Linked DNA regions of Homo sapiens. The protein of the gene in region 4 purifies or fractionates together with the protein of the main gene of each other region. This does not show direct contact. Each region holds a gene or a part of one and is shown on either strand. Other genes may lie near its edges.

Region 1 (3,500 bases), about 44 Mb from region 4:
GACCATCCTGGCTAATACGGTGAAACCCCATCTCCACTAAAAATACAAAAAATTAGCCAGGCGTGGTAGCAGGCGCCTGTAGTCCCAGCTACTCGGGAGGCTGAGGCAGGAGAATGGCGTGAACCCAGGAGGCGGAGTTTGCAGTGAGCCAAGATTGCGCCACTGCACTCCAGCCTGGGCGACAGAGCAACACTCCGTCTCAAAAAAAAAATAAGCAAGATTGGGGGTGGGAAGTGCAGAACAGTGGGGAACCATGGGCAACTGTACATGAAAAGTGGGAAAAACAGGACTATACAATTGACCCTTGAACAACACGGGTTTGAACTGTACAGGTCCACTCATGTGCTGTAGTTATTCACAAGTGTGATCATAGCACACTATGGCCTCAAACTCCAGGCCTCGAGTAATCCTCCCACATCAGCCTCTGGAGTAGCTGAAACTACAGGCAAAGCTGTATTACATACAGATTTTTTTCAACAAATATATTTTTTAAATTTTTGGAGATGTATAACATTTTGAAAAAAACTCAGAAACAAAACACCTAGCCTAGAAACATCAAAAAAATTAAGAAAAAGTTAGGTATGCCATGAATGCAGAAAATATATGTAGATACTAGTCTATTTTATTATTTACTATAAGATATATACAAATCTATTATAAAAAGTTAAAATGTATAAAAACTTATGCACACAAATACAAACCATACATGGTGCCATTCATAGTCAACAGTAAACAAATGGAAAGGTGCAGTATTAAATCACAACTGCATAAAATTGACTATAGTATATACTGTACTTCTGTAATAATTCTGGAGCCACCTCCTGTTGCTGTTTCAGTGAGCAAGTGTTGTGAGTAGCCCCTAAAATGCTGTGTGATGCTAATCGTCTCCACGTGAGCAGTTCCTTCCTCCAGTAAAAAGTGTCACAGTAAAAAGTGATCTCTCAAGGTTCGTGCATATTTTTCATCATGCTTAGTGCAATACTGTAAACCCTGAATAACACCATGAGATCCATACCAAGTGCCACTAATGCTGGAAGTGCTCTCAAGAAACAGAAAGGTCATGACATTATACGAAAAAGTTGGCCAGGCATGGTGGCTCACACTTGTGATCTCAGGACTTTGGGAGGCTGAAGGCAGGAGGATTGCTTGAGCCCAGGAGTTTGAGACCAGCCACGGTAACATAGTGAGACCATGCCTCTACAAAAAAATAAAAACTTATCCTGGAGTGGTGGCACACACCTGTAGTCCCAGCTACTCAGGAGACTGAGATGGGAGGATGGCTTGAGCCTGGGAGGTCGAGGCCATAGTGAGCTATGATCAGACCACTGCACTCCAGCCTGGGCAACTGCCCCTGTCTCAAAAAAATAAATAAATAAAAATTTGAATTGCTTGATATGTACCACAGATTGAGATCTGCAGCAGTAGTGGTCAGCCATTAAAAAAAAAAAAAAAAAAGTAAATTCATGAAGCCAGGCTATGCAATGCCAACAGCAACAGCAGTTAAGTTTTGCGGGAAGTCAAAAATTATACCTGGGGCCAGGCGTGGTTGCTCACACCTGTAATCCAGGCACCCTGGGAGGCCAAGGGGGGTGGATCACCTGAGGTCAGGAATTTGAAACCAGCCTGGCTAACATGGTGAAACCCTGTCTCTACTAAATATACAAAAATTAGCTGGGCGTGGTGGCAGGCCCCTGTAATCCCAGCTACTCGGGAGGCTGAGGCAGGAGAATTGCTTGAACCCAGGAGGTGGAGGTTGCAGTGAGCTGAGATGGCGCCATTGCACTCCAGTCTGGGTGACAAGAACAAAACTCCAATTCAAAAAAAAAAAAAAAATGTCCGGGCGCAGTAGCTGACGCCTGTAATCTCAGCACTTTGGGAGGCTGAGGCGGGCAGATCACAAGGTCAGGAGATCAAGACCATCCTGGCTAACACGGCGAAACCCCATCTCTACTAAAAATACAAAAAAAATTAGCCGGGCATGGTAGCGGGTACCTGTAATCCCAGCTACTCAGGAGGCTGAGGCAGGAGAATGGCGTGAACCCAGGAGGTGGAGCTTGCAATGAGCTGAGATCACACCACTGCACTCCAGCCTGGACAATAGAGAGAGACTTCGTCTCAAAAAAAAAAAAACAACAACAACAAAAAAGAGGAGCCGGGCGTGGTGGCTCACACCTGTAATCCCAGCACTTTGGGAGGCCGAGGCAGGCGGATGGCCTGAGGTCAAGAGTTCAAGACCAGCCTGGCCAACATGGTGAAACCCTGTCTCTACTAAAAATACAAAAAAATTAGTTGGGCATGGTGGCGCACACCTGTAAACCCAGCTACTCGGGAGGCTGAAGAGGGAGAACTGCTTGAACCCGGCAGGCAGAGGTTGCAGTGAGCTGTGCCATTGCACTACAGCCTGGGCAACAAGAACGAAACTCCGTCTCAGAAAAAAGAAAAAAAAAAAAAGGAAATTAATGAAGCCAGGTTATGCAACACCATCACCAACAGCAGTAGTTAAGTTTTGCCGCGAGGGGGCGGCGGAGGGGGGGTCAAAAATTATATTTGGGGCCAAGGCACAGTGGCTCATGCCAGTAATTCCAGCACTTCCGGAGGCTGAAATGGGAGGAGTGTTGATGCCCAGGAGTTTGAGACCAGCCTAGGCAACATAGGGAGGCCCTGTCTCTACAAAAAAAAAAAAATTAGCCAGGCATGGTGGCATGCACCTGTGGTCCCAGCTACTCATTCAGGAGGCTAAAAAGGGAGGATCACTTGAGTCTACAAAGTTGAGTCTACATCGAGCCATGATCCTGCTACTGCACTCCAACCTGCGCAACAGCAAGAGATTCTGTCTTAAAAAAAAAAAAAATTATACTTGGATTTTCTACCGCACAGGGGTTGGCTTCCCAACCCCTGTTTTGTTCAAGGGCCAACTGTATCATTTCATTTTTAATTCTTCTTTTTTTTTTTTTTTTTTTTTGAGATGGAGTCTCCCTCTTGTCGCCTAAGCTGGAGTACAGCGGCGCGATCTCGGCTCACTGCAACCTGCGCCTTCCTGGTTCAAGTGATTCTCCTACCTCGGCCTCCCGAGTAACTGAGATTACAGGCACCTGCCACCATGCCTGGCTAATTTTTGTATTTTTAGTAGAGACGGGGTTTCACCATGTTGGCCAGGCTGGTCTCAAACTCCTGACCTCAGGTGATCCACCGGCCTCTGCCGCCCAAAGTGCTGGAGTTACAGGCGTGAGCCACCACGCCCAGCCATATATTCTTATTTGTAAGCATTCGCCTAAAGAAAGTCTAAAAGAGGCCGAACGCGGTGGCTCATGCCTGTAATCCCAGCACTTTGGGAGGCTGAGGCGGGCAGATCACTTGAGGTCAGGAGTTCAAGTCTAGCCTGGCCAACACGGTGAAACCACGTGTCTACTAAAAATTAAAAAATTAGCCGGGCGTGGTGGTGCACGGCTACTCAGCTACTCAGGAGGCTGAGGCTGGAGAATCGCTTCAACCCGGAAGGC
Region 2 (3,500 bases), on a different chromosome or scaffold from region 4:
CACCTATAATCCCAGCACTTTGGGAGGCCAAGGCAGGCGGGTCACCTGAGGTCAAGAGTTTGAGACCAGCCTGCCCAACATGGTGAAATCCCGTCTCTAATAAAAATACAAAAATTAGCCAGGTGTGGTGGTGGGCGCCTGTAATCCCAGCTACTCGGGAGGCTGAGGCAGGAAAATCACTTGAACCCAGGAGGCAGAGGAGGCAGTGAGCCAAGATCGTGCCACTGCACTCCAGCCTGGATGACAGAGCAAGACTCCATCTAAAAAAAAAAAAAGGTGAGCCCCTATGGGAGTGGCTCTTTCATTATTTATTACTGTTGTTTTATTTCTAAGTTGAAATAGGAGAGGGGTACCAAAGAGACAAACATGTTTTAAGCAAAAACATCACCTAACTATAAGAAACATTTTTATTGATAACAATCTGGAAAAATCATTTTTACAAAACAAAAGGCAAAGGAAGTAAACAACTCTATGCGGAAACAGGTCTAACGGTAATGAAAATATGTTCAGACATACATAATATGCACTTCTATTTTAAATACGTATGAGTACATGGCTGATCTAAGTAAGAAAACCTGCAAGTTAAGGACAGAGTACCAATGTATAGATTTATGGCATTTATGTTATGATCAAAACTTCTTCAAAAATGCTCCTTGGAGTGTAAATATTAAGATACCACCGATGTTCAACTTACAAAACATATATTGTAGGTTTATTATCTGCAAGGTTAAACGGGTTGAGCAATGGGAGGAGAGACAAATAATGAGGCCTGGCCTCTGTCCTAAAGAGGTTCCCAGAGAGCACAGGAGACAGACACCCGCACACCAACAGAAGTCAGAATGGAAAGTGGAGAATTCTGCTAGAAATCTAAAAGACAGAAATGAGAAGAAAAAAGAAGATACCAGAAAGAGAGATTATTAAAATTGTTAATTTGCTAAACAATTTAGGGGATTAAAATAAACCTTACTCCAGAAATAGGATTATAATTTTGGAAAAAGAACAATTTTCCCCTGAAATGGGTAGACTCATTCCAGCTTGGCTCCTTCCATAATTACCAATTAAGTGATTTTCTCTTAAATAACTTACTGGGTTATCTTCTTCACACTCTTTCCACTCCTGATAAAGGTCTCTCATATCCAACAGCCTGTTGTCCAGTTTTTCCAAAGACCAAATCTGCTTTCCTTTTCCTTTTCTTCTCACCTGGATTGCAGGCTCACTAAGAAGAGAGCCTCGCTGCAAAGAGAGTAAGAATGACCGTGAGAAACACACAGGCAGCGGGGAAGTCAAAGCTGACAATTCCACCCCCATCAGTCAAATGTCATTACACCAAAACTCAAATGGCAATCATCCTTTAATCTGTTGATTACAAAGCCTCCAAAAAGTCTTACAAGCTATAACATAATACCTTCCTACCCAAGTGCAATCAAAACCTATTTATAAACTTCACTTTAAGTATAAACTTACATTAAAAATTTTTTGGGGGGAGTTGCTGGGCATGGTGGTTCACGCCTGTAATCCCAGCACTTTGGGAGGCCAAGGCAGGTGGATAACTTGAGGTCAGGAGTTCAAGACCAGCCTGGCCAACATGGTGAAACCCCTCTCTACTAAAAATACAAAAATTAGCCGGGTGTGGTGGCACGTGCCTGTAATGCCAGCTACTTGGGAGGCTGAAGCACAAGAATTGCTTGAACCCAGGAGGCAGAGGTTGCAGTGAGCTGAAGTCTTGCCACTGCACTCCAGCCTAGGTGACAGTATGAGACTCTCAAAAATAAATAAATATATACATGTGTGTGTGTGTAAAGAGACAGCATCTCACTCTGTCACCCAGGCTGGAGTGCAGTGGCACGTCATAGCTCACTGCAGCCTCGAACTCCTGGGCTCCAGTGATACTCCTGCCTCAGCCTCCCAAGTAGTTAGGACCACAGGTGCATGCCAATACACCCAGCTAATTTTGTCTGTTTTGCATAGAGACAGGGTCTTGCTATATGGCCAAGGCTGGTTTGGAACTCCTGGCCTCAAGTGATCCCCCTGCTTCAGCCTCCCAAAGCACAGGGATTATAGGCATGAGCCACCACATTTAAATTTTGACTGTAGTTGGAAATGATTTTAAGTTTAAAACCCAAAAGACCACATTTAACAGCAAGTTGAAATAAAAGTATTTTATTCAGGCCACCATATGACCACAACGTTATCAATGGGGAGAGAGGGAAAGTTTGCTGCGGTGTATGGGGAAGAAACGTCCCTCTCAGAGGCTGAATTTTGTTTTATTGTAATGGATGGCATCTTCAGGGGGTATAAAACATGAAACACTTAAAAGAGTAAACTGAAAAGTCCCCGATTCACCCACGTGGAAGCAATTAATGATACCAGTTTCCAAATATGCATTGTTTGGGTTTCTTATTAAGATCATACAGAACTAGATGGAAGCGGTGCTCACACCACATTATTACCGTGCCAAATGCCACTGAGTTATTCACTTTAAAATAGTAATGTTTGGCCAGGTGTGGTGGCTCACGCCTGTAATCCCAGCACTTTGGGAGGCCAAGGCAGGCAGATCACAAGGTCAGGAGTTTGAGACCAGCCTGGCCAATATGGTGAAACCCCGTCTCTACTAAAAATACAAAAATTAGCCAGGCATGGTGGTGGGCGCCTGTAGTCCCAGCTATTCAGGAGGCTGAGGCAGAAGAATCGCTTGAACCCAAGAGGAGGTTGCAGTGAGCCGAGATCGCGCCACTGCACTCCAGCCTGGGCAACAAAGCAAGACTCTGTCTCAAAAAAAATAATAATAATAAAATTAAAAAAAAGTAATGTTCTATTATGCAAGTATCACACCTCCCCCCCAAAAAAAGTATGCTCTGAAGTTTTTCCAGCTTATAAGAGCAATGTGGATTTTTTTCAGAGTAGAACTTGAGCAATGTGTTTTTAATGTAGAAAAAATTTTAGAACTTTTAAAAAACCACAAAGTTAAAAAAAAAAAAGCCCCTATACATTTCCCCGAGGGAGACATATCTACTGGTTATCTAATCAATTTAGGTTTACTGGCTTAATTTTTCAAATGTTCTACTTAAAACTGAAGAGAACTTTGAAATACATTGATGTTTCATTAACATCTTGCCTACAATCATTTTCTAAGAAAAAAATTTAAATAATAAAACAAACATTTGAGAATTCTTACGGTCAAAATGCGTGTGTGTGTTTTTTTTTAATTGAGACAGAGTCTCTTTCTGTCGCCCAGGCTGGGGTGCAGTGGCCCAATCTCGGCTCACTGCAACCTCCGCCTGGGTTCAAGTGATTCTCCTGCCTCAGCCCCCCAAGCAGCTGGGATTACAGGCGCCTGCCACCACGCCTGGCTGATTTTTGTATTTTTAATAGAGATGGGGTTTCATCATATTGGCCAGGCTGGTCTCGAACTCCTGACCTCAGGTGATCCGCCCACCTTGTCCTCCCAAAGTGCTGGGATTACAGGCATGAGCCACCATGCCCGGCCATCTTACAGTCAA
Region 3 (3,500 bases), about 180 Mb from region 4:
TGAATAAACAAAATTGCCAACTATCATAAGGTAATTTCTCCCTTCCAAATATGTACTACTAGCCAGTTACAAGTAAAATTCAAAAACTATATATACATGTATTTATACATACATAGAATTATTAGGGCTGAGATTTGATTAATTAACAAGAGCTTACTAAGTGACTACAGATGAGTCCTATACTAGATGTTGTAGAAGTCAAAAGATGTTTGTTTGGTTCCTCTTCTTATGGACCAGCACTGTCCAAAAGAAATATAGTACAATCTGCATGCATATCCAAAATATTATCATTTCAACATGTTCACTATCAGAGAAATTGTTTCCTTTTTTTTTAAAACTAAGTCTTCAAAATCTGATGTGTGTTTACACTTGCAGCACATCTCAATCTGGAATAGCCATGTGAGGCTAGTAGCTGCTGTATTGGACAGAGCATATAATCTGATCGGATTTATTAGGTTGTGACCAGAGATTGAGTTAATAAGTGAGCAGACTTCAGCAATTTGGGCAAGACATTTATTGGTGTTCTTTTTTATAAAAATCAGTTGAACTTTCTTGTATTTGCGGAACTCAGTTCATTAGGCTGTATATCAAGCCCAGAGTTAGGTGCTAAGTATATAACAACATATTTCATTTTTAAAGGACTGTGTTAATAGTGGTCAGGCTAACCTAATAAATGACTAGAAATCAACAGGCTGGTTGCGTAGTGGAGGAAAAATGGGTTCCAAAGATAGTAATTCAATATTAGTAACTCTTCAATTTCATTTAGCACCCTTCTATAATATAGTGAGGACAGTCTCAAGAAATCTGATAAGCTGTTTCAGAAACTCTCATCCTTTATTACCTATTTTTTACTAACTCAAAGTTGAACATATTTATTTGCAGGTAATTTAAGTTATTGCCTAAAAGGCCTTTAATTTTGATTTTTCTGAACCATAGGCCAGTTTTAATTTCCTTGGATGAATTTAAAATGGCCTTTGTTCTCATACCTGGAAATGGATGTGGATGCTACCTAAGCAAAAAGCAGATGTAGATGTAGATATAAGTATCGGAAAACTAGCAAAGATCATCTTAGTTTCTTATGGTATGATTTAGGTTCATAGCATATGTCTAACTCACAGCTTTGCATTCCTTTTGGCCTTGTCTACTTTCAATAAAATTGGACTCTTAGTACATTTTCGTCAGAGGATGAGACTAACAATAACACTAAATTAGTATATTAATTTTTTAGTATTGGTAAGGATGTCGCTCATTAGGTTATTTTTGTAACCACAGCATGAGTAGTTTGGGATCTGAGACCATGTTTTTCTTATCTATCCATCCATCCATCCTAATTCCAGGACATTTCGACCTTATCATTTAAGAGTTAGAGGTATGCTGTGAACCCTAATGACAGAGCCCTGAAATCCAGTGTTTTCTTTTTCTTATGTCTAATTTTTATGTTGAAGGTTACCTACTTAAGTGGAAGTAAATGCTTCAGCTGTAATTCTGCTTCTGAGAGAGACAAGTGGATGGAAAACCTTCGCAGGACAGTTCAACCTAATAAGGTAATAGTAGCTTCAAGTATCTAAAAAATGTATAACTTTGTAAGCAGTTAATTGATAGAAGGTAAGTGTGGTAGTAATACCTTAATTTGTCTATAGCTTGAGAGTTTTAAAGCACATTTATATGTTATGCCATTTGTAGTAAGCCCTTATTATATCACCATAAAGAAGTATCTGAGACTGGGTAATTTATCAAGAAAAGCAGTTTAATTGGCTCACGGTTCTGCAGGCTTTACAGGAAGCATGGTGCTGTTATCTGCTCAGCCTCTAGTAAGGCCTCAGGAAACTTACAGTCATGGCAGAAGGCAGAAGGGGAGCAGGCACATCACATGGTGAAAGCAGGAGCAAGCGAGAGAGAGAGTGTGTGTGTGAGTGACTTGGGGGGAAGGTGCCACACACTTTTAAACCACCAGATCTCACAGGAACTCAGTATCAGGAAGATGGCACCAAGGCATGAGGAATCTGCCCCCATGATCCAAACACCTCCCACCAGGCCCCACCTCTAGCACTGGGGATTACAATTCAACATAAAATTTGGGCAGGGACAACTATCCAAACTGTATTATCATTTTAAGCTAAAAGCAGTCTTACTGCAGATATTATTGCCATGGTTCTACCAGCATGGATAAAAGGACTCTGAAAAGTTAGGTGAATTGGCCATGTCAGAAGCTAGTACATGATAGAAGAGGGACTAGAATACGAGCTTCTTAACAGCTTATCTCTTTTATTTGCAGATATTAGACTGGTTATATGAAAACTTACCGTTACAAAATGATATTTTCTTAACCCAAGTAAATAAAATAGAATGAACTATATATAATATATATAATGAACTATATATAATTCTTCAAGATTCTAATGCATGCTTGTTTAGAGCTTGCTGTTAACCTAAGCAATGAGATAGCAATCCCTTTCATTATTTGTTGACTCCCCTTAATAGAGTACCTAATGAACATTGCCAACTTAAGAAAAAAATGTTTTTTTTTCTGCAATGTCAGCTCTGAAATTCAGCTTTGTTGCCTCTTTATAGGACAATTGCAGGCGAGCTGAAAATGTTCTTCGTTTATGGATCATTGAAGCCAAGGACCTTGCCCCTAAAAAGAAATATTTCTGCGAACTGTGCCTTGATGATACCCTCTTTGCTCGTACAACCAGCAAGACCAAAGCAGACAATATTTTCTGGGGCGAACATTTTGAATTCTTCAGCCTTCCACCTCTTCATAGTATCACAGTTCACATTTACAAGGATGTGGAAAAAAAGAAAAAAAAGGACAAGAATAATTATGTAGGGCTAGTCAACATCCCCACTGCCAGTGTGACTGGTCGCCAATTTGTAGAAAAGTGGTATCCAGTGAGTACACCTACACCCAACAAAGGAAAGACAGGAGGACCTTCTATTCGGATTAAATCACGTTTCCAAACTATCACCATTCTGCCTATGGAGCAATACAAAGAATTTGCAGAATTTGTCACCAGCAACTACACCATGCTGTGTTCTGTCCTTGAGCCAGTAATTAGTGTGAGAAATAAAGAGGAGTTGGCTTGTGCCTTAGTGCACATTCTTCAAAGTACTGGCAGAGCCAAGGTAAGTGGAAAAGGGGGATTGCAGTACCTGAAGTCTCTTCCCTACCTTTCATAAACCAAGATATGGATATTGTAGAAATCCAAATTAGAGAAATGTGCTTTACTATTGGTCAAAACAAGAAGAATTAAGAAGAAAACCTATTAGATCCAGAAAAGATGAAGATTATAAAACTAAACAAGTAAAATGGAGAGACCAGCAAATATTTAAAGCCAATTTGCATGAAACATAGATAACACAGCCAGCTCTTTCTTGTCTGACAAAATAAATGGTAGGATTGGCACGATAACCCTACAGCATGTTCAAGGTTCCTTATCTTTAATTTAGTTCTAGAGTGTTGTATGGTGGTTTTCTTCCTCACTGTATTTTATTTAAGT
Region 4 (3,500 bases):
ATGAGCCCAGGAGTTTGAGGTTTTGCAGTGAACTGTGATTGTGCTGTTGCACTCCAGCCTAGGCAATAGAGACCCTGTCTCAAAAACAAAACAGAACACCAGAGAGCTCTCTCCTCACCTCTGTTCCCACCCTCACTGGGCACAAAAGTAAAGCCATGTGGGGACACAGAGAAGATGGCCATTACAGTGAGAAAGAGAGTCTTTACGATGAACCAAATTAGCTGGGACCCTGACCTTGGACTCTTGGCCTCCAGAGCTCTGAGAACAAACATTTTTGTTGTTTACCCGCCCCCTGCCCCATGCCTGTGGCACTTTGTTACAGCAGCCTAAATAAAACAACTAAAATATGTGAGATGATGGCAAGGTGGGCAGAAGGAAAGTTCAGGAACTATGGACACAAGACTGTGGGCCCTATGCTACGGTCAAAGCCAACGGGTTCTCTGAATACCCAAAAGCTGGTTCTCTCTCTGGCTGCATTCTACAATCACCTTAGGAGCTTCAAACAACACCAATTCCTACGTGCCCTCCAGACTGAATGATCAGAACCTGAAGGTACAGCCCAGGCACCGGCACTTTAAAAGAGCTCCCCAGAAGATTCTAATGTTTAGCGAGAATTGACAGTACTGTCCCAGTGGGTCAATATCTCCCTAGCTTAAGACATACCAGGCGGGATGTGGTGGCTCACGCCTGTAATCCCAGTGCTTTGGGAGACCAAGGTGGGCGGATCACTTCAGGCCAGGAGTTCAAGACCAGCCTGGCCAACATGATGAAACCCTGTCTCGACTAAAAGTACAGGCTGGGTGCGGTGGTTCACGCCAGTAATCCCAGCACTTTGGAAGGCCGAAGCGGGCAGATCACCTGAGGTCAGATGTTTGTGACCAGCCTGGCCAACATGGCGAAACCCCGTCTCTACTAAAAATACAAAAAACAATTAGCCGGGCGTGGTGGTGGGCGCCTACACTCCCAGCTACTCAGGAGGCTGAGGCAGGAGAATGGCGTGAACCCAGGAGGCGGTGCTTGCAGCGAGCCGATATCGCGCCATGGCACTCCAGCTTGGGCAACAGAGCGAGACTCCGTCTCAAAAAAAAAACAAAAAACAAAAAACAAACTAGCCGCGTGTGGTGGCGCGTGCCTGTAATTCCAGCTGCTGGAGAGGGTGAGGCATGAGAATTCCTTGAACCTGGGAGGCAGAGGCTGCAGTGAGCTGAGATCGTGCCACTGCACTCTAACCTGGGCGACAGAGCAAGACTCCATCTCAAATGAAAAGAAAAAAAAAAAAAGAAAAAAGACATACCAGTGTTTTATTCAAATACATGAAAAATTCGGCCAGACACGGTGGCTCACACCTGTAATCCCAGCATTTTGGGAAGCCGAGGTGGGTGGATCATTTGAGGTCAGGAGTTTGAGACCAGCCTGACCAACACAGTGAAACCCTGTCTCTACTAAAAATACAAAAAAAGGGCTGGGAGCAGTGGCTCTTGCCTGTAATCCCAGCACTCAAAACAAAAACAAAAACAAAAACAAAAACAAAAACAAAAACAAAAAAATTAGCCTGGAGTGGTGGTGGGCACCTGTAACTCCAGCTATGCAGGAGGCTGAGGAAGGAGAACAGGAGAATTGCTGGAACCTATGAGGTGGAGGGTGCAGTGAGCCGAGATCGCACCACTCACTCCAGCCTGGGTGACAGAGTGAGACTCTGCCTCAATAAAAAGAAAAAAGAAAAAAAGAAAAAAAAACCATGAAAAATTCAATGAAAACCAGAACCTACAAAAACATGTCTGGTATAACTACTCCTATTGAGGACTATACTAGAGGCCACAGCCAGTGCAATAACATAAGAAAAAAATAAAAGGTACAGTGACAGAAAAGGTTTGGCATGAAATGTAGGTCTGTTAAACAAAATAAGAAAAGGAACAAGTGAAGTTGTACTTGCAGATGACATGACATTTCTATGTAGAAAAACAAATAAGTGAGTTTATTAGCAAGGTTTCAGAAGGCAAATTCAATACACAAAAATCGCCTGTATTTCTATATACTAGCAATAGACAACAGGAAATTGAGACCATCCTGGCTAACATGGTGAAACTCTGTCTCTACTAAAAATACAAAAAATTAGCCGGGCATGGTGGCGGGTGCCTGTAGTCCCAGCTACTCAAGAGGCTGAGGCAGGAGAATGGTGTGAACCCAGGAGGCAGAGCTTGCAGTGAGCGGAGATCGCACCACTGCACCCCAGCCTGGGTGACAGAGAGAGACTCTGTCTCAAAATAATAATAATAATAACAACAATATAATTTACAGCTGGGTGTGGTGGCTCACGCCTGTAATCCCAACACTGGGAGGCCGAGGTGGGTGGGGATCACCTGAGGTCAGGAGTTTGTGACTAGCCTGACCAACATGGTGAAACCCTGTCTCTACTAAATATAAAAAATTAGGCAGGCATGGTAGCACATGCCTGTAATCCCAGCTATTTGGGAGGCTGAGGCAGGAGAATCACTTGAACCTGAGAGGTGGAGGTTGCAGTAAGCCGAGATTGCACTGCAGCCTTGGTAACAAGAGTGAGATTTCATCTTATAAAAAAAAAAAAAATATATATATATATATATATACACACACACACACATATATTATTAAAAATATATATCTTATTAAAATATATATACATATATATGATCTATAATAGCATTAAAAATATAAAATATGTGGGGATATATTTGGCAAAAGACATGTCAGAACTGCACACTGAAAACTACAAAATATTGCTGACAGAGATGAAAGGAAACCTAAATAAATGGAGAGACATACCATGTTCATGGATTGGAGGACTCAATATTGAGATCTTAGTTCTCATCAAATTGATCTGCAAATGTTACCCAAACACAACCATCAAAAGCCAAGCAGGCTTCTCTAAAGGAAAGGACAAGCTGATAAAATTCACATGAAAATGTAAAGTATCTAGACCAGCTGAAAAAACTTTGAACAAGAACAAACGCGAAGGGCTAAGTTCATGACTTGTTGAAAAACTACGGGAACCAGACAGCGTGGCAGCATCAAGACGGACATACACATCAAGGAAACAGGACGGCCAGCCCAAAGGTAGACGCCACAGACCCTCACACACATGCAGTCCATGAATTTTTGACAGGTGCTGAGGTGATTCAACATGAGGAGGATCATCTTTTCACCTAATAGTTCTGAACAACTGGACAGCCACGTCTAAAAGAACGAAGCCCAACCACTTCCTCATACTACATACAAATATTAACTCAGAATGGATTATAGACCTAAATGTGAGGACTAAAACTATGAAACTTTTTAGAAGAAAGCACTGGAAATTTTTTTTTTTTTGTCTTTTTGTGAGACAGGATCTCCCACTGTTGCCCAGGCTGGAGTACAGTGGTGTGATCTCAGCTCACTGCAGCCTCAACCTTCCAGGCTCAAGCAATCCTCCCACTTCAGCCTCCCAAGTAGCTGGGATTACAGGCATGCACCACCACACCTGG

The links. Proteins that work in one complex are often made in the same cells at the same time.
Region 1: the proteins of NADK (region 4) and TESK2 purify together in Homo sapiens (affinity purification with mass spectrometry, with the first as the bait; one large-scale study listed by BioGRID). This does not show direct contact.
Region 2: the proteins of NADK (region 4) and KIF13B purify together in Homo sapiens (affinity purification with mass spectrometry, with the first as the bait; one large-scale study listed by BioGRID). This does not show direct contact.
Region 3: the proteins of NADK (region 4) and RASAL2 purify together in Homo sapiens (affinity purification with mass spectrometry, with the first as the bait; one large-scale study listed by BioGRID). This does not show direct contact.

The regions. Positions count from the first base shown.
Region 1 is NC_000001.11:45,481,164-45,484,663, forward strand, and holds part of TESK2 (dual specificity testis-specific protein kinase 2), read right to left. Parts: intron 1-3,500. UniProt on the Homo sapiens protein: Dual specificity protein kinase activity catalyzing autophosphorylation and phosphorylation of exogenous substrates on both serine/threonine and tyrosine residues. Phosphorylates cofilin at 'Ser-3'. May play an important role in spermatogenesis.
Region 2 is NC_000008.11:29,141,071-29,144,570, forward strand, and holds part of KIF13B (kinesin-like protein KIF13B), read right to left. Parts: intron 1,234-3,500; coding exon 1,087-1,233; intron 1-1,086. UniProt on the Homo sapiens protein: Involved in reorganization of the cortical cytoskeleton. Regulates axon formation by promoting the formation of extra axons. May be functionally important for the intracellular trafficking of MAGUKs and associated protein complexes.
Region 3 is NC_000001.11:178,440,104-178,443,603, forward strand, and holds part of RASAL2 (ras GTPase-activating protein nGAP), read left to right. Parts: intron 1-1,445; coding exon 1,446-1,544; intron 1,545-2,571; coding exon 2,572-3,126; intron 3,127-3,500. UniProt on the Homo sapiens protein: Inhibitory regulator of the Ras-cyclic AMP pathway.
Region 4 is NC_000001.11:1,768,471-1,771,970, forward strand, and holds part of NADK (NAD kinase), read right to left. Parts: intron 1-3,500.